Linked DNA regions of Homo sapiens. The protein of the gene in region 2 purifies or fractionates together with the protein of the main gene of each other region. This does not show direct contact. Each region holds a gene or a part of one and is shown on either strand. Other genes may lie near its edges.

Region 1 (5,045 bases), on a different chromosome or scaffold from region 2:
AACTCCTGACCTCAGGTGATCTGCCCGCCTTAGCCTTCCAAAGTGCTGGGATTACAGGTGTGAGCCGTTGCACCCGGCCAACATTTTCTTTTAGAATGTATTTTTTTTTCTATAATAGAATATCCTTACGAGATCATTATACTAAAAAATCCCCAGAGAAGTCCTTTATGTACCCTTTTGGGAAATAATATTTTCTTGTGCATATCAGTGGAATTTTATGGTAGTTCCATGCCTACCCTAAACATTAGGAATTGAGATTTATTTTGAATTGAAATTGATAGGTTGGTGCATGATGTGGAAATAGTTGGCCGCCCCGGTTAGCCTGCTGTTTTCTAATGGTGAAAATACAGATTTTACTGAGCTCTAAGATTCTATGGAGAACAGTATCTATAGAGGATCTATAAATATGAAAACATTGAACTATTTCATAGTTAATTCATCCACTGGGCATTTTACATGGAATATTTTATCTTAGGATTGATAAATTATGCTATAAGAATGGATCTAAGAATGAATAAATTGTGGTAGCTTAGAATGGATAAATTATGGGTAAAAGTCAGCTTCCCATCCCCAAAGTGGTTGGCAACAGTTATGAAACCTGTAATTTACTTGCATTTTATTTTTTATCCTTTGTTGGTTTCCCTAAAGCAGTTAGGAAACTGCTAAACAAAAAAAAAAAGGAGGGGGGAACTTTTCCCCCTCCTTTTTTTAAATGAAAAGGTATTTGTGTGCTTGTGTTTTGTTTTGTTTAGAAGGGCCACAATAACGATGAAGGAATGGAAGCACTTTCATTTGAGAATAAAAAGTTCCTATTTTTCAAATTCAAGGGAAAAAAATAAAAAAGTGACAACTCCTTGGCCCTAGTCCCAAGCCTTGAACAAGTAACCACAGACCCCTGCCCAATCTCTGAGAGCCTCATTTTAGTAACCCCTTTCTGAGGTTCATGTATGTACAACCATGCTTACATGAATCAGCCAATCCCCAATCACTCTGCTTTTAAAAGTCCACCAGTCTTTGTATCCCAGGCTTCTCAAAACTCTGTGATAAGATCAGCTCTGGCTGTGTGAGTTGAGATTTTCTTGGAAGCAGTAAATTTAGCTTCCCTGTTTCAGATACATATGGATGATGGTCCCTACTTTAGACAACACTGTTTGTCAGCCAGCTTTTGGAGAAGAACCCCAGAGGATAGAGAGGATAGTGGAACTTTAAGGAGGAAATGAAATCAAGTCTGATAGAGTCCCTGGAAAGCAGCTAACAAAATTTTCGTTGAGTTTTGCTCTGACCAAAGAAGCTGGACTGGGCCAGAAAGTGACCTTGAGCTTAGTGTTTAGAAATGCATAATGAGGTTATGGCAGCTCTTGTGTGAGAGTGTAAGCTTTTGAAGGCTAGAACCCAAATCAGTGCATTTTATTAAAGAAAATTTTTAAACTTAAAATTTTATAAAGAAAATTTTTAAATTTTTATCCTCCCAGTTCTACAATGCTAATGATCCTTAAATCTCTCCTTTTGCTGAGACCAGGATACATTTTTCACATAGATAACTTTGAAAAGAAATTTATCCGCTTCAAAACAGCTTCTCAAAAACTTGGTGTTTGCTTGTTACCCACCAAAAATTTCTCCCTATTATATGTTAACCCTTTCTGCCTCCCACTCCTCTCCCAGTTTGATTCCAGTCCACCTTTTTGGTTTTACTTTTGCCAAATAAATTCAGACTTTTCCTTCTTTACCTCAATAATTTTTTGATGCTAATTTATTCACCTTGTATGTCTTGGGCACCAGCTTTCCATAGCCATGTCCTCTTTAGAACCTCCTAGCACTTTCTGCATATCTTACGGTTCTTATCCTGTTTTATTTTATATCTTTTGTTCATTTAATGAACATTTGCTACGTACTGTGCTCTGTGATGGGACCCTCTCAAGCAAATATAACATGATTTCTGCCCTGGAGTAGTTCAGCCCAATAGGAGAAATGGATATATAAGTAGATAATTGCAACATGGTGAGTCGAGTGCAGTGGAGTGGTATGTGGTTATGGTACTAAGTCCTAGGAGGGATCACTAAGCCTGTCCTTGGGTGGTGGATACAAGAGAGGAATGTAGAAGTAGAATTGCTTACTCAGAAATTGTCCTTAAAAATCATGAGAGAGCTGGGCATGGTGGTTCATGCCTGTAATCCCCGTACTTTGAGAGGCTGACGGGGAGGATTGCTTGAGCTCAGGAGTTCAAGACCAGCCTGGGTAACATAGGGAGACCCTGTCTCTACCAAAAAATAAAAAAAAGTTAGCCAGGTGTGGTGGCATACATCGGTAGTCCAAGCTACTCATGAGGTTGAGGCAGGAGGATTGCTTGAGGTTGGGAGGTTGAGGCTGCAGTGAGCTGTAATCAAGCCACTATACTCCAGCCTGGGTGAAGGAGCAAGACCCTGTCTCAAAAAAAAAAAAAGAAAAAAAAGATCTTGAGAGGTATTGCCAAATTACCCTGTAAAAGCATAAAAATTAAAATTTTTCTACTTTTACTACCACCAGATGTTAGTAATCTTAATAGTTACTGTTTTGATAATAAAAATTTGACATTTTAAATGGCATTTCTTTATTATTAAAGTTGAATAACCAAATATTTGCCACTTGAGTTTGACTGATATATATTTTAGCTTTTATAGCCTACACATTTAAATTTTGGAATAGTTGGCAGATTTTTAGGAAAGTTACAAGTATAGTACAAATAACTTTTTTCCCTGAATCACTTGAGAATAAGTTGCCAAAAAAGTTGCCACATTACCCTAAATACTACAAACAAGAACATTCTCCTACATATCCATAACAAAACCATCAAAATCAGGAAATCACTACATTCGAGCGGGTTATAGTCTATATAACTATATAGATTATCACTGTATACCAAACCACCCCAAACTTACTGGAGTAAGACATTTTATTTAAGAAGCGCATCAGTTCTCTGGGTCAGTTCTATTCAGACAGGGAAGGGAGATGGTTTGTTTCTGGTCCACAGTGTCTGGGCCTCATCTGGGAAGACTCAAAGGCAGGGGGTGACTTGACAGCTAGGGCTGGAATCCTCAAGAGGCATCTTCACTCCCATGCTGGTAGTTGATGTGGAACACCTCTACCTGGTGTCTCTGTGGGCTAGTTGGCACTTTCTACACATGTGGTATCTAGATTCTGGGCATGATCATCCTGAGAGAGGTATGTGGCATTTTTATGATCTAGTCTTGGAATTCTCATGGCATTATTTCCTCCATACTTGATTGGTCAAGGCAGCCACAAAGTTCTGCCCAAAGGTCAGGAGGGGGCATTAGATGCTGCCACTTTTGGGAGGAGTGTTAGGGCCGTATTGTAAGAGCATGTGGGTTGGAAGGTATTGTGTGTTTGGAAAATTCACTTTGCCACAGGTTGTATCTGTTACTTGATATATGCCCACATTGTCTCGTATCTGGCCTATGGGAGCCCTTTCAAGCTGGTTACTTCTGTGTTCTGTTGACATGCCTCATTGAGCAACTGCTTTATATTCCGGCACAGGATGTTCTAGGCTCATCTTGTCTTTACCATGCTCCAGCCATTTTTCCTAGGGTTCTTTTTAAAGGAAAGCGGTATTTAGGAATTCAGGTTTGAGCCCTAGTTGTGCCCACTGCTACTGGGGTGTATAACTGCATCCAGGCACTCTCAGTGGGCAGAGCTATGGAATGTATGTGTGTATGTGGACACACACTCTCAAACTATCTCTATTCTTCTATCTGTGTGTTGAAAACAATGAGTTCACTTCAGTAACCCCTAGTCTGGTCAAGTACTACAGGGTTTATTTTAATTTTGTGCCTTTTTAGATATTGTTTTAAACAGCTTGAGATATAATTTATGTACCATACAATTCACCAGTTTGAAGTGTACAGTGAATGGCTGTGGGCTCATTCACATTGCGTATACATCACCACAGTTGAGTTCAGAACGAAGAAGCCCTGCTTCCATCACTTCCCAGTTCTCCCAGCCCTGGCAGCCACTGTTGTGCTTTTTTTTTCTGGGGACGGAGTTTTGCTCTTACTGGTCAGGGTGGAGTGCAGTGGCGCGACCTCGGCTCACTGCAACCTCTGTCTCCCAGGGTCAAGCAATTCTCTTGCCTCAGCCTCCCGAGTAGCCGAGATTACAGGTGCCCAGCTAATTTTTTGTATTTTTAGTAGAGATGGGGCTTCACCATATTGGCCAGGCTGGTCTTGAACTCCTGACCTCAGGTGATCCACCCACCTTGGCCTCCCAAAGTGCTGGGATTACAGGTGTGAGCCACTGCACTCGGCCCACTGTTGTGCTTTCTATGGATTTGCCTGTTCTGGACACTTCACATAAATAGAATCATACAATATGTGGTCCTTGTGTCTGGCTTCTTTTACTTAGCATATTTCCAAAGTTTGTCCATATTGTAGCATGTATGTATTTCATTTCTTTTATGGCCAAATAATCTATTGTATGGATATGTCATATTTTATTTATCCAGTCATCAGTTTATTTATCAAATGCCCCAATGCAGGGGCATTTGGTTTGTTTACACATTTTGGTGACTGAATAGTGTTGTCATGAACATCCTTATATAAGTTTTTGGGTGGATGTATGCTTTTCTCTTGAGTGGAATTGCTGGTTCATATGTTACCTATATTTTTAATCTTTTGTGGGACAGCCAGACTGTTTTCAGGCACACATGAAGACTGGCTGCACTGGTATACATTACTATTAGGAATGTATGAGAGTTCCAATTTCTCCACGTCCTTGCCAACACGTTTCCTTTTTTTTTTCTTTATAGATATCCTGGTGGGCACAGTATCTCTTTGTGGTTTTAATTTGCATTTCTCCAAATGGCTAATGATGTTGAGCATTTTTTTTTGTTTTGTTTTAAGATAGGGTCTCACTCTGTTGCTCAGGCTGGAATATAGTGGCGTGATCAGACTCACTGCAGCCTTGACCTCCTGGGCTCGGGTGATCCCCTCACCTCAGCCTCCTGGATAGCTGGGACTACAGGTGCGCACCAGGATGCCTGGCTAATTTTTGTA
Region 2 (5,045 bases):
CTTTTTCATTTTTTTCAACTTCCTTTTGTGAAACTGTAGCTGTTGTTCTTGAATTATCATTGCTCTCTGATACACACGTGTCAGAATCTTTCACATCATTCTTAGCACCTTCTTGCTCAGACGTTTCCTTTACTTGTGAGTTGCAACACCGTTTGAATACAATAAGAAGATTTCGGTGTTGTGATGTAAATGCCTTAGATAATTTATGGCACTTATAATGTCTAATTATATTGCTTTCACTTGTAACAACTGAAGTACATCCCTTTATCATACATGGATACTGGGTTACAAATCTGCTTGTACACTCAGACAGGGCATCATTTCTAGCCTTTATAGAATATACATGCTTCCCACGTTTCAGAGAATAAGGCTTATTTTCTTCAATCTGCACAATCTTTGCATTCTTGTTTTCTAAATTATTTTTTTTCTTTCGTTTGGTCTTGGGCATTTTTATTCCTTCCTTTCCACATCTGCTGTGCTTGGTCCCCCGATGTTTAGACTTTGATTTTTCTTGGTTTGCCTTGCTTGACATATTTTCCTGGCCTGGTGTTAATCTTCTTGGACGAATCAAATGAGCCTTATGTTTGTCATTATGCTTATTAAAAATGTGTCGGAGGAGATTCGACCGGGTTGCATATATACGGTCACAGCCTTCACAATCACATTTGTATACACCATCTTCTTCTGTTTTACTTGCCCTTAGTCCAATCCCGTGGTCTGCCTCTAGATGAACAACATAGTTCAAATATGTAGTAAATGAAGATTTACACTCTAACTGGTCACATGGAAACTTCCCAACATCCACTGAAGCAGTCATACTTTCAATTTCTTCAGGAGTCATTTCATGAAGTTTCATGTAGTGTTGTATTAGGCCAGTAATTGCTTGGAAAATTCGAGAACAGTCACTTACCTGACATCGAAATTCTTTCAAAGTTTGTTTAGTTTCAGTTTCTTCACTTTCTTTACCAGCTTCACTTTCCTCTTCGACCTCTGCTGAAAATGCAGGTAGATCTGATTTGTGTACAGCCTGGTAATGGAGAATCAAGTTTTGCTGTATCGTAAAGGCAGCAAAGCATCCCTGGTGAACACATCGATAAGGTCTGTAAGGACTGTATCTTGTTGGAAACTCAAGGGATTGGGAAACTGGCTTCTTTCGTTTTTTCTCCTCCTTTTCTTTTTTATGCCTCCTAATCTTCCGTCCTTTGGTTTGTGTGTTTGTGAGTGCATTTGTATTACATTGTTCTGAAGTAACTGTAATCACTTGTAAAGAACTTTCTGTTTTGTCAGGACTTTTTTTTTCTACAAGTTGTTTTTCTGGGATCACTGCTACATTACTGTGGGTATTTTGGGTCTCTGCTCTCAATTCTAAAGCAGGCTGAGATTCCTTTTTATTTTCCTCTGTCATAGCTAGCTGTTTTTTCACTTGTGTACTTCGTGAGGCCGGCACATTTTCACTCTGAGATTTTCTTCCATAAGGCCTTTTAATTTTTAACTTTACCATTTCTTCAGTTGTAAAATGATGCACCAACTGACAGTGTGCCCGGAGGTTAGAATTTCTTGTAAATGTTTTTGTACATGTAGGTACTACACATTTAAAGGGAGCAAATTTCAATTGATTCTTCTTAATTTCAAGAATCATTTCTGGAGTGTATTGATGAATTTTACCATAGTGCTTAAATAGTGCATCCTTTGTCATAGCACTGTAGTTACAGCCTTGGTTTTGACACACAAAGGGTTTATTAACTTTGTCATTAAATTGAATGTTTATCATTTCAGAAACTGGCTGAATAACTGTGATATCTGCAGTTGATTTAACAGGCGTGGGAGTCAGTGTCACTGATGTATTTATCAGTACACATTGGGATGCTGGAGTGGATAGGTCATTTTCTAATTTTAATTTCTGTAAGCCTTCTAAAATTTCCTGTATTTGATCCTCCTTATGTGATACTTCAGACTGAGGAATGTTACTTTTTGTTGGCATGACACTTATAAAGGAGGAAAACGGAGAAGAATCGGGTAATTTGTTATTTTGCACAGTGTTTACTGAAGGAAGCTGAATGTTATAATTTATTTGAGCATTTTGTGAAGTTTCACCAGCACCCTGAGATCCACTTTTTACCTCAAGTATTTGAGAATTCATAGCAGTTTTAATAATTTCAAGAGTCTTTTCAAAGTTTTGTATAACATTGTCTTCAGAAATCTGCAAATCAGAATTTATTGAAGTTGTGCATGAATTCAAAGCCATCATTTGGGAATCACCATTTTCAGTTTTTAATGTTAAAGGGGCTAACACTGTATGGGACTCAAGACTGGTTTTGAAATTCTCTTTTACATCAGTCATAAATAACTGATTGTTAACATTATTTAATTTCTGTGTTAGATTTTCCACCAAACTCTGAGGTTCACAAGTTGGAATTACATTTGAATGAAGGTTAGTAGTTGGGATTTCAACACTCTTTGCTATGAGTCCCATTGTTGTTAAGTCACTTGTTACCAAGTTTTGGGAAGCGTTAGGTGCAATTAGTGGAGGAGCAACTTTCTTTCTTCTCTTAGAAGCACTGTTTCCCTTTTTATTTAAATGACTGGATCTTGTGTTCTGAGGACCACTTATAACAGAAACACGAGAACTGTTACTGGTAAAATTTTGTGATGGCCCACCAGAATTAGGAAATGAACTAGAGCACAAACCATTTTCAACAGTCTTCAGTAGTAAGTCATTCGTTGGAAAAACAGGCAAGCTGCTACATTCCTCAATGGAGGAAGTTTTGGAGTTTGACGTCCTATTCTGGTTGGTCAGCAAGGTGTTTGGATGGCATACAGTGTGCAACAGGGGTGGTACAGTTGGATTTGGCATCACCGTTGCATTTACTTGTGATGCATCAGAGACACAACCTGTTGAAACATGAGAAAGCATTTCGGCACCCTCAAATGTACTGGGAATGCCAGCAGTTTCCAAAGCCTGTTTAATAATTTCACTACCTTCTTGACTGACACTGGTATTAAAGTTAGTCACACCAGATCGAGGAAATGTATTTGGTAAAAATGCTGGCGAGCGATTTTCAGCAAGAAGCTGTAGAAATGATGGATCTTTAAAACATGCTTCTGGATTGAAGGTAGATTGTTGTGGCTGCTGCAAATTTACTGCATTTGTGGAGAGAATCATGCTGGCAAGAAGAGAAGGCTGTCCATTACTCTGTAGAAGTTCTTGAGCAATTTCGGCTCCATCCAGTGGTTTACAGTAAGATCGCTTGGATAAGTGCCCACCCAGTGATCTGGGATTAGTAAAAGCCCTGTAACACCTGCTACAGATAAATTTCCCATCTCTGATAATTGCAGGCCATTTAGCCCTTTTGTTGTGCTTAGGTTTTCTTTCCTTCCCATTTGGGCCCCGCCCACGGTCTTTTTTAACTTTTTCAGGTGCAGACTGTTGGGCATTGGTGCTACTGAAGTTATTTGCAACATTCACTTGTGAAGGAAAAACTGCATTTTCACCATTACCCCCCTTTAGAAAGGAGGAATTAGTGTTTCCTTCAATCTGTGAGGAATAATGATTTGTATTATTTTCCAGTTGGGAAAAAACAGAATTAGTCCCACTATCTGCTGGTGAAGGGAAGAGAGACATTGAACTACTTTCTGCAGGTAAAGGAAGGAAAGGATCTGAGCCACTGTCAATATTCAAAGGCAGAACTGTTTTGGTTAGATCTTCCATTTGTGCTGGCAAGGCAGTACTAGGTAAATTTTCCATTTGGGAACATAACATACCACCTTGTTCATTTTTATCCTGAGAAGTTATATTTGGATTTATGACACTTTCCATTGAGGACAACAATGGAGTTGACACACTTGCTAAATGAGCTGGAAAAATGGGTGGCGAGACATGCTGCAACTGGGCCGAACAAGCAGGATTCCCATTGGCTTTGGTCTGTGATGTAAAAAATGGATTTGAGCTGTTCACCGGTGATGGCAAAAAATAAACAAACTTTCCATTATTTGGTGTATTTAAGTTGTTAGCTTTCTGACCTTTTTTACTTTTGCGCTGCATTTTAAATGCAGCATATTGGTCAGGGTGTGCTGTCTTCATGTGTTTCCCAATACTCTGTGAAGAATTATAGGTTCGAGTACATCCCTCGACCTGGCAGCTGAATTTCTGAACTGGAGCTTTTGGAGGCACTGATGGAGTTCCTAATGAATTACTTAGGTCGGACTGCGGTGGAACAAATGCAATACTTTCTAATGTCTTAAGAGGTAAATTATAAAGATTGGATGATGTTTTAACATTATCTCCACATTCAAATTTGGAAGTTGGTAAATTGTTTTGAAATGCTGCCTGATTTTGCACAGAAAAGGTCATCAAGTTGTTCACTTGTCTTTCTAAGTTTTGTGGGGTAAGGTCACCTATTTTGAGAGTTTCTGAATTTACTAAAGAATTCTGAGTAACATGGGCATCATTAAAGCAATCTTGTTCTTTTCTCTCCTGGAAACCTGGATGACACAAATCATTACAAGTATCTTCAACTGGCGTATGTAAGTCTGTGACCAGTGCTTCACCACTGCCTTCCACAGTTGAGTTTTCTTGCTTTCCAAAGTTATCCTCAATCCCCTGATTGAGAGACACCTTAATGGACACAGCTACTTCACTGGATTGAAGTAGAGGAGTAGTAGCAGGGTTTTCCAAACCATTTGACAATGGTCCATTAGCTTGCCTGAGCTCAGAGGCAGAAATCTGGTCTTGTTTGGTCACAGCTGATTCTGCTTTGCTTTTATCCCAAGCATCACTTCTATCTGCTAGTAAGCTGTTTTCAATGTTATTTTCTGAAGGAAGCATAGATCTTTCTTTCTCAATATTCTCTGCTGTGTTCTGATTCACTTCAGAAGGCTGAATGGAATCTCCAGATGAATTAAGTTGGGCTTCAGGAGGCAGCACTTTTTCAGGAGGAGTACTGTGATCATCCAGATGCTTTTCCAGCTCACCCTGAGAACGATAAACTTTACCACAACCTGTGAACTTACAAGTGTACGTATTATAATGTTGTGCTTCATGATCA
Region 3 (5,045 bases), on a different chromosome or scaffold from region 2:
CTGAGTGCAGTGGTGCAGTCATGGCTCACTGCACCCTCGATGTCCCAGGCTCAAGCAATCCTCCCACCTCATTCTCCCGAGCAGCTGGGACAACAGGCGTGCACCACCACACCCAGCTAATTTTTTAGTTTTTGTAGAGATGTTTGGCGGGGGGGGGTCTCCCTATGTTGCCCAGGCTAGTCTTGAACTCCCAGACTGAAGCAGTCCTGCTTCGGCCTCCCAAAGTGCTGGGATTACAGGCATGAGCCACCACGCCAGGCCTACTTAAATTTTTTTTTTTTTAATTGAACTGCACAAACAGAAAATGCACAAATGATAAATACTTAGTTTGATGAATGTTCTCAAGGGGAGAACACACCTGAACCCACCATGCAGATGGAGAATTAGGAGAAGGAAGAGTGCTATGTCCTGTAATGTGATGGAGCGATAAGTTATCATCAAGGAGAAAAAGGCCGGGGCCTGGAGCGGGACAGTTCTAAGGGTGCTGTTTGAATTGGTCAGGGAAGGTCTCTTTAGCAAATGATGGTGAAGCAGAGGAGATGGAACAGAGGCAAGGGACCCTCATTCTGTCATCAGAGGGAAGAGAATTCTAGGCAGAAGGAACAGCCAGTGCAAAGGCCCAGAGGCACGAGCAAGCTTGTGTTGGAGGAACAGTGAGGATGGCTGCTGCTCCATAAGGAATCTCTGCGGCTTTAATCCAACTTCAAGTTTGGGGTGAACTTGAAGTTTAAAGAGGAAAGAAAGATGAGAAAGTAGGGGAAGAACTGGTTTCTCCTCCTGGCTGTGCCTTTGTCTCCCTTGTGTGTGGAAGAGGTCCCAAGGCAGGGTAAAGTCGAGATTCAGCTCTGGCACACTCTTCCTGTCTTCATCTCATGCCCAGTAAGAAGCCCTGATTCAAGCCACCAGCCCAAGCCCAGGCCTCTGTCCCGACATAATAATAATTTTAGCTAATGTTTATCAAGCACTTACTATATGCCAGGCACTACCCTAAGTGCTTTACATACTATAACTCATTTTCATCTCACCTGAGCCCTATGAGGAAATAGTCCACCATTCTCATCCCCATTTTACAGACAAGGAAACTGAAGCACAGAGAAGTCAAGTAACTGGCTCAAAGTCACACAGCTATTTAGTGACAGAGCTGGGCTTCGGACCCACACAGCCTGGATCCAGACCCATGACCTTCACCATGGGGACAAACACACATGCACTTCCTACTCCACTGGTCTTTGCTGATCTAGTAACTCTCCTCCACTACCCACCATGACATAAATAAGCCTCAGCTGTTCTTCCCTGAACCCACCCTCTGCAGGATTGTCCCTGTGCAGAACAGCTCATTCATAGATCAGAGCCTTCCCTGGAAGGGGAGTTGTCTTTTCATTTTGAAGGCTGTCTTGGAATCTCGGCTAAACCACGGTTGGCTCCTGCGTCTGTGTTTTGACCTGCTTTCATACTTTTTTTTTTTTTTTTTTTGAGACGGAGTTTCGCTCTTGTCACCCAGGCTGGAGTGCAATGGCGGAATCTTGGCTCACCGCAACCTCCGCCTCCCGGGTTCAAACGATTCTCCTGCCTCAGCCTCCTGAGTAGCTGGGATTACAGGCATGCGCCACCATGCTAATTTTTGTGTTTTTAGAAGAGACGGGGTTTCTCCATGTTGGTCAGGCTGGTCTTGAACTCCTGACCTCAGGTGATCCCCCCGCCTTGGCCTCCCAAAGTGCTGGGATTACAGGCATGAGCCACCGTGCCCAGCCCCTTAATGCTCTTGAAAGAAAGGAGGAAGAAGTTCTAGGACAGGAGAGACAGATTAGTGAAGCAACATTTAAATATTTACTTTTTGAATATGTCATACATTCACATGGTTCTAAAAAAGGTATGTGGTGAAAAGTCTTATCACATCCTGTCCCCCAGGTCCCCTCCCCTGCAGAGTTATTAGCAGCTTATAAATCATATCTCGCTTTCTATCCTATGGACCAGCACTGCCCGGTGGAACTTTCTACAATGATAGAAATGTTCCTTATCCAGGCTAGGCATGGTTACTCACACCTGTAATCCCAGCACTTTGGGACTCTGAGGCAGATGGATCACCTGATGGCAGGAGTTCGAGACCAGCATGGCCAACATGGCAAAACCTGATCTCTACTAAAAATTCAAAATTAGCCAGGCATGGTGGCAGGTGCCTGTAATCTCAGCTACTCGGGAGGCTGAGGCACAAGAATCGCTTGAACCCAGGAGGCAGAGGTTGCAGTGAGCTGAGATTATGCCACTGTACTCTGGCCTAGGTAACAGAGTGACACTCTTGTCTAAAAAAATAAAAAGAAAGAAAATGGTTCTTATCTGTACTGTCCAATCCAGAGGCCACTGGCCACACATGGCTACAGAATGCTTAATGAGGCCAGTATGACTGAGGAACTGAATTTGTCATTTAATTTATCGAAATGTAAACAACCTAATGTAGCTAGTGGCTTCTGGATTGGACAGCGCAGCTCTGCACATATACAGGTCAATTTGCATGTCTGTATGTTTAACTTTAATTTTTAACTTTATTTCCTCTTTCTGCCCCGCCACCCCCCACCCCCAGCAAGCAGGGCAGCCTAGTGTACACGCTGTTTTTGTTTGTTTGTTTGTTTGTTCTTTGAGACAGGGTTTCACTCCTGTCACCCAGGCTGGAGTGCAGTGGCACGCTGTTGGCTCACTATAACCTCCACCTCCTGGGCTCAAGTGATTCTCCTGCCTCAGCCTCCTGAGTAACTGGGACTATAGGCATGCACCACCATGCCTGGCTAATTTTTGTATTTTTAGTAGAGACGAGGTTTCACCATGTTGGCCAAGCTGGTCTCAAACTCCTGACCTCAAGTGATCCACTCACCTTGGCCTCCTGAAGTGCTGGGATTACAGGTCGGGGCCACCACACCCGGCCTGTACATGCTGTTTTGCATCTTGCTTTATACGTTGGGGAGTGCCAGATGTCACCATCTTTCGTTCTTCCTCTGGGGCTGGTCAAATCCCCCTGAGAAAACTCCTCTGGCCTCCTGGCGGGGGGTGAAGGCCAGGCTGCCAGGGCCAGGCTGCCAGCTTCTGGGAGCTGCAGGGGCAGAGGCAGGGAGCTGTCAGGCATTCAGCCAGCAAGACGCACTCAGTACCCACTTGGGGTTCAGAATCCCCCTCCCTCATCTTCAGATGGGCCAGATGTCCCCAAAGCCAGCGGCCCCTTTCTGTTTCACCCTGTCTACAGAATAAACCCCCAGTCACTGGGGGTGGGGGAAGAGTAAGGGGAGAGGGGAAACGAGATTTGGAGGTCTAGCTGCTGCTGAAACAGCCCTCAGTTCGTCTTTATTTTGCCTTCTGCAAAACTGGCCTGGTGTTGCCAGCTCCTTTTGAGGACTTTGCTACCGGTTCTCAGCATCCCTCAATTGCTGGCTTAGGATTCATGGGTTTTTAGGGGTGGGGTGGGATTAGCATGTCCAGCTGCTTTCCAGTTTCCAAAGTTCTGTCCCTATCATATTGCCTCTGATTTAAAAAAAAAAAAAAGCCATTTTAAAAAAAAGATGTAATTGAGGTTCAAGAGAGAGTGAAACTAGAGAGGTGTTCAATCCATCACTTTTACACAGAAATTTCACCTTTTTTTCACTTATAAAATCTAATGAAAGAGTTCTATATTATTATGTTAATAATACAGTAGTAATATAACAGTATAATGTAATAATTAATATATTATATTAATTATATATTATAATTATATATTATATTATATTATATATATTATATATTATATATTAATTATATATATTATATATATTATATATTATATTATAATATATTATATTATATTATATATATTATATATTATATTATTATTATATTATATTATATATATTATATATAATATTATATATATTATATATTATATAATATAATATTATATATTATATTAATATTATAATATGTAACGCATAACATGTAATATTGATAATATAATAGGTGCGATGGCTCACACCTGTAATCTCAGCACTTTGGGAGGCCGAAGCGAGAGGATCACTTGAGCCCAGGAGTTCAAGACCAGCCTGGCCAACATAACGAGCACCTGTCTCTACAAAAAATTAAAAAAAAAAAAATTAGGCATGGTGGCATGCATCTGTAGTCCCAGCTACTCAAGAGGCTGAGGCACGAGGGTTGCTTGAGCCCAGGAGCTTCAGGCTGCAGTAAGCTATGATCACACCACTGTACTCCAGCCTTGACAACAGAGTGAGACCCTTTAAATAGATAGATAGATAGATAGATAGATAGATAGATAGATAGATAGATAGACAGACAGACAGCAAGCTTTAAATTTTCATCCCAAGCCTAGGTCAAGCAACAATCAGTCTTTCCACTTCCCAGCAGTCTTCCAAAGGAAGGATTATTTGTAAAAAGTGCCTGCACTTCCTGAGTTGGGTTGCTCTCTTGATCTTTGGAGGGGATCAGACAAGAAGGATGCGCCCAAAGCCACAAGGCATGATTTAAGGGCAAGACTGGGGGGCGACTTCACCCAGGGAGGTGTTAATACCTTTTTTTTTTTTTGAGATGGAGTCTCGCTCTGTCTCCCAGGCTGGAGTGCAGTGGCGCAATCTTGGCTCAGCACGACCTCCATCTCCCAGGTTCAGGTGATTCTTGTGCCTCAGCCTCTTGAGTAGCTGGGACTACAGGCGTGCGCCACCAGGCCTGGCTAATTTTGTGTGTGTGTGTTTTAGTAGAGATGGGGTTTCATCATGTTGGCCAGAATGGTCTCGATCTCCTGGCCTGGTGATCTGCCTGCCTCGGCCTCCCAAAGTGCTGGGATTACAGGCGTGAGCCACCGCACCCAACCTTTAACACCTTTTATCACCTGCCCTGCCTGATGATGATGGGCTTTGGGGTCCAGTCACATCTCCATTCCCTCACTTGTGGCAGGCACCAGGGTAACCAGCAAGCAAGCCCTGAAAAGAGAGACCTTGCCCGGAAACGTTGCAGCGTTCTCTTACGTGTATGCTTTGCCTTCTGAGAATGGCGAGCATTGATGCAAGTGTATC
Region 4 (5,045 bases), on a different chromosome or scaffold from region 2:
AAAAAACAAAAAAAAAACCATAATTCTGTCAACTGTTTTCTAAAATGTACTACATATGTAATATAACTGTCAACAACTCTACATAGCAGACCCGTTCAATCAGTTACTCAAGGCTACATTCAACAATTAACTTACCTTTTTTTTTTTTTTTGAGACAGGTTTTCACTGTTGCCCAGGCTGGAGTGCAGTGGTGCAATCATGGCTCACTGCAGCCTCCACCTCCCAGTCTCAGCTGATCCTCCCACCTCAGCCTCCCAACTAGCTGGGACTACAGGTGTGTACCACCACACCTGGCTAATTTTCGTATTTTTGGTAGAGATGAGGTTTCACCATGTTGCCCAGACTGGTCTTGAACTCCTGGGCTCACACCATTCATCTGCCTCAATTAATTCATCTTGAAGTGTTTACCAGGAATTTATATCATTTGATATTCAGAATTTCTATAGCCACAGTATAAAACTGATACTAATACCTTTCTTTTTTTTTTTTTTTTTTTTTTGAGATGGAGTCTCGCTTTGTCGCCCAGGCTGGAGTGCAATGGCGTGGTCTCAGCTCACTGCAACCTCTGCCTCCCAGGTTGAAGCGATTCTCCCGCCCCAGCCTCCTGAGTAGCTAGGATTACAGCTGCCTGCCACCACGCCCGGCTAATTTTTGTACTTTTAGTAGAGACGGGGTTTCGCTACATTGGCCAGACTGGTCTCAAACTCCTGACCTCGTGATCTGCCAGCCTGGGCCTCCCAAAGTGCTGGGATTACAGGTGTGAGCCAGCATGCCCGGCAACTAATACCACTTTTTTTTTTTTTTTTTGAGACGAAGTCTTGCTCTGTCACCCAGGCTAGAGTGCAGCGATCTCGGCTCACTGCAACCTTCTCCCAGGTTCAAGTGATTCTCCTGCCTCAGCCTCGCAAGTAACTGGGATTACAGGCATGCGCCATTGTGCCTGACTAATTTTTGTATTTTTTAGAGATGGGGTTTCACCATCTTGGTCAGGCTGGTCTTGAACTCCTGACCTTGTGATCCACCCGCCTCGGCCTCCCAAAGTGCTGGGATGACAGGTGTGAGCCACCGCGCCCGGCCTAACACCTATTTTTTTAAATATCTGGCTACAACCATTACATCCTTATTCTATAATTCATCTTTGGGGTCTTAACTGTACATTTTGTTTTCTAGTTTTAGAGCAACCCCTGCACTGTTTTCTGAGGAAAATCTTGGTCCTGCCCATAGGACCTTTAAATACATGTGCTGGTTGTCCATTCAGGTCAAAATGCTGACATGATCAGGATCTAACCTAAATCAGGCATGCTGAATATGTAGCCTCATGATTCTGGACTGAGAAAATAAACTCATTGCAACCTGATGCTTACTTAAATTCCTGGAGAATTACTAAAGGATTTGTTCACTCAAAAATTCAATAAACTGTTCTCTACGTGCCAGATGCTATTCTAGCTGCTGGGGATAAACAGTGAACAAAACACGTATAGTCCCCACAGTGTACGCATCCCTCTTTACCTCTGAATCAAGCCAAACCATCAGAGAGCCATATACCAAAACCACATTGCTTTGGCCCCGTGGAGACTGTTCACTGGCAATAACTCACTTGGATTGAGAAGTATAAGAAGCAATCTTTATTTATTTATTTAAGACGGAGTCTCACTCTGTTGCCCAGGCTGGAGTGCAGTGGTGCAATCTCAGCTCACCGCAACCTCCACCTCCCAGGTTCAAGAGATTCTCTGGCCTCAGCCTCCTGAGTACCTGTGATTACAGGCACGCGCCACCATGCCCGGCTAATTTTTTGTATTTTTAGTAGAGATGGGGTTTCGTCATGTTGGCCAGGCTGGTCTCAAACTCCTGACCTCAGGTGATCCACCCGCCTCAGCCTCCCAAAGTGCTGGGATTACAGATGTGAGCCACCACGCTTGGCCAAGAAGCAATCTTTAAAAACTCACGTTTGATTTTAGAGATACCATGAATCTGAAAACTGAACTTTATTTTCTTCTTCATTTTACTCCAGAAAACTCAGAGCCAAACACCAAAGCAACCATTAGCAATGATGCAGGACTTTCCGGTCCATGCACTAATTCTGCCACTGGCTTTATCTGCTTCTTTCATTTCTTCTTGGCCTTTATTTTTAATCTTCTCATTTTGAAAAGAAGTGGGAAATAAAAGATATTTGATGGGTGTTTTTTAACCTAAAATTTATTGTGTACCTTCTATGTGCCAGGCACTATCCTAGGCACCTTACAACCTTGGGGAAGTCGAACTATTATTTCTTTTTTTTTTTTTTTTTTTTTTGGAGACAGAGTTTCGCTCTTGTTGCCCAGGATGGAGTGCAATGGTGCAATCTCGGCTCACTGCAACCTCCACTTCCTGGGTCCAAGCGATTCTCCTGCCTCAGCCTCCCGAGTAGCTGGGATTACAGACATGCGCTACCACGCCCAGCCAATTTTTTTTTTTTGAGGCGGAGTCTCGCTGTCGCCCAGGCTGGAGTGCAGTGGTATGAGCTCAGCTCACTGCAAGCTTTGCCTCCCGGGTTCACGTCATTCTCCTGCCTCAGCCTCCTGAGTAGCTGGGACTACAGGCACCTGCCACCACGTCCAGCTGATTTTTTTTGTTTTTAGTAGAGACGTGGTTTCACTGTGTTAGCCAGGATGGTCTCGATCTCCTGACCTTGTGATCCGCCCGCCTTGGCCTCCCAAAGTGCTGGGATTACAGGATTGAGCCATCGTGCCCGGCCCAATTTTGTATTTTTAATAGAAATGGGGTTTCTCCATGTTGGTCAGGCTGGTCTCAAACTCCCGACCTCAGGTGATCTGCCCACCTTGACCTCCCAAAGTGCTGGGATTACGGGCGTGAGCCACCACGCCAGCAGAACTATTATTTCTACTATATAGATGAGGAAACTGAGGCAGAGACAGGCTTATTAACTTGCACATGATCTCGCAAACTACATTTGACAGAGCTGAATTCAAATTCAGCCCAGACCATTTCATGTAAGTGTATGTACAGGCCATGATGGGACCCAATAAGGTGGAGCAGAGGGAGGGTGGGGGGAAGCCCTCACTGAGCAAAGTCTTAAAGGAGGGGGCTTGTCAAGGAGCAAGGAGAAAGTACTCCAGAAAGAAAAAGAAATCACATACAAAAACCCAAAGCAGACCAGGTACTGTGGCTGACGCCTATAATTCAAACACTTTGAGAGTCTGAGGAAGGCAGATAGCTTAAGCCCAGGAGTTCACGACCAGCCTGAGCAACATGGTAAAACCCCACCTCTACAAAAAATGCAAAAATTAGCTGGGCATAGTGATGCACATCTGTAGTCCCAGCTACTTGGGAGGCTGAGGTGGGAAAATCACCTGGGCCCGAGAAGTCAAGGCTCCAGTGAGCCATTGTCACACCATTGCACTCCACCCTGAAGTGAGACCGTCTTTAAAAAACAACAACAACAACAACAAAAACAACAAAAACCCTAAAAACAAAAAACCAAAGCAAAGAGGGAACATAAGTTCTGGGAATGGCAAATGGAGCACGGAGTTACATTCAGCAATTAATTCATCTTGAAGGTTCACCAGAAAGTTAAATCATTTAAAAGTAGACATTTAATAGTTCCATCATTGAAAATCGATATGGCCAAAGTATTAACCGTGGCTGGGAAAGTATGAAGAAGTAAAATAAAGGCAATTTTTTTATATGATTAGGCTAAAAGTCTGAATGATGTTCAATAAGCAATGAGGAAGCACAGAGGGATCCTAAGCATGAGAATTACAAGATCGATTTGCACAGTACAGGGAGGGAATTACAGATTCAAGGTAGGGAAACCAGTCAGAAGGCTACTGAAGAGTCTGGCAGTGGGGTAATGAGAGTTAAATGAGAGCTATCCAAAAGAAATACAATGCAAAGAAATACAATGCAAGTTAAATGTATGCAGCTTTTAATTTTCTAGTAGCCATATTAGAAAAAATAAAAAGAAAGGCTGGGTATGGTGGCTCACGCCTGTAATCCTAGCACTTTGGGAGGCCAAGGCTGGCGCATCACTTGAGCACAGGAGACCAGCCTGAGCAACACAGTGAGACCCTGTCTCTTACAAAAAATAAAAAGTTAGCCTGGCATGGTGGTGCACATCTGTAGTCCCAGGTACTTGGGAGGCTGAGGTGGAAGGATTACCAGGTCGAGGCTGCAGTGAGCTGTGATTGCACCACTTCACTTCAGCCTTGACAACAGAGCCAAGCCCTGTCTCAGAAGAAAAATAAAAAGGAAAAAGAAGTAAGTGAAGGCCAGGCCCGGTGGCTCACACCTGTAATCCCAGCACTTTGGGAGGCCTAGTCAGACAGAGCACTTGAGGCCAGGAGTTCAAGACCAGCCTGGCCAACATGTTGAAACCCCGTCTCTACTAAAAATACAAAAATTAGCCGGGCATGGTGGCAGGCGCCTGTAATCCCAGCTAATCGGGAGGCTGAGGAAAGAGAATTGCTTGAACCCAGGAGGCGGAGATTGCAGTGAGTCAAGATCACATCACTGCACTCCAGTACGGGCAACAAAGTAAGACTTTGTCTCAGGAAAAAGTAAGTGAAAATAATTTTAGTAACAATTTTATTTACAGCCAGGCATGGCAGCTCACACTTGTAATCACAGCACTTTAGTAGGCCAAGGTGGTTGGATCATTTGAGCCCAGGAGTTTGAGACCAGCCTGGGCAACATGGCCAAACCTTGTCTCTACAAAAAAAAAAAAAAAAAAAAGAGCTGGGTGAGGTGTCAGGCGCTTGTAGTCCCAGCTACTCCAGAGGCTGAATTGGCTGGGTGGCTTGAGCCCAGGAGGTGGAGGTTGCAGTATGCTGAGATTGCACCACTGCACTACAGCCTGGATGACAGAGCCAGACCCTGTCTCAAAAAAAAAAAAAAGTATTTACTCCAATATACCTAAAATATTGTCTCACTATGTCATCAATATAAAAAGTTACTGAGAAATTTTATTTATTCAATTTTTGTACTAACTTGAAATCTAGCATGTATTTTATACTTATCTCATTTCAGACCCTAAATTCTCATTGGAA

Evidence for each region. Proteins that work in one complex are often made in the same cells at the same time.
Region 1: the proteins of ZNF292 (region 2) and ADNP2 purify together in Homo sapiens (affinity purification with mass spectrometry, with the first as the bait; one large-scale study listed by BioGRID). This does not show direct contact.
Region 3: the proteins of ZNF292 (region 2) and ZSWIM9 purify together in Homo sapiens (affinity purification with mass spectrometry, with the first as the bait; one large-scale study listed by BioGRID). This does not show direct contact.
Region 4: the proteins of ZNF292 (region 2) and SCAI purify together in Homo sapiens (affinity purification with mass spectrometry, with the first as the bait; one large-scale study listed by BioGRID). This does not show direct contact.

Annotation. Positions count from the first base shown.
Region 1 is NC_000018.10:80,111,766-80,116,810, forward strand, and holds part of ADNP2 (activity-dependent neuroprotector homeobox protein 2), read left to right. Parts: intron 1-5,045. UniProt on the Homo sapiens protein: May be involved in transcriptional regulation. May play a role in neuronal function; perhaps involved in protection of brain tissues from oxidative stress. May be involved in erythroid differentiation.
Region 2 is NC_000006.12:87,256,020-87,261,064, reverse strand, and holds part of ZNF292 (zinc finger protein 292), read right to left. Parts: coding exon 1-5,045. UniProt on the Homo sapiens protein: May be involved in transcriptional regulation.
Region 3 is NC_000019.10:48,183,684-48,188,728, forward strand, and holds part of ZSWIM9 (uncharacterized protein ZSWIM9), read left to right. Parts: intron 1-5,045.
Region 4 is NC_000009.12:125,135,980-125,141,024, forward strand, and holds part of SCAI (protein SCAI), read right to left. Parts: intron 1-5,045. UniProt on the Homo sapiens protein: Tumor suppressor which functions to suppress MRTFA-induced SRF transcriptional activity. May function in the RHOA-DIAPH1 signal transduction pathway and regulate cell migration through transcriptional regulation of ITGB1.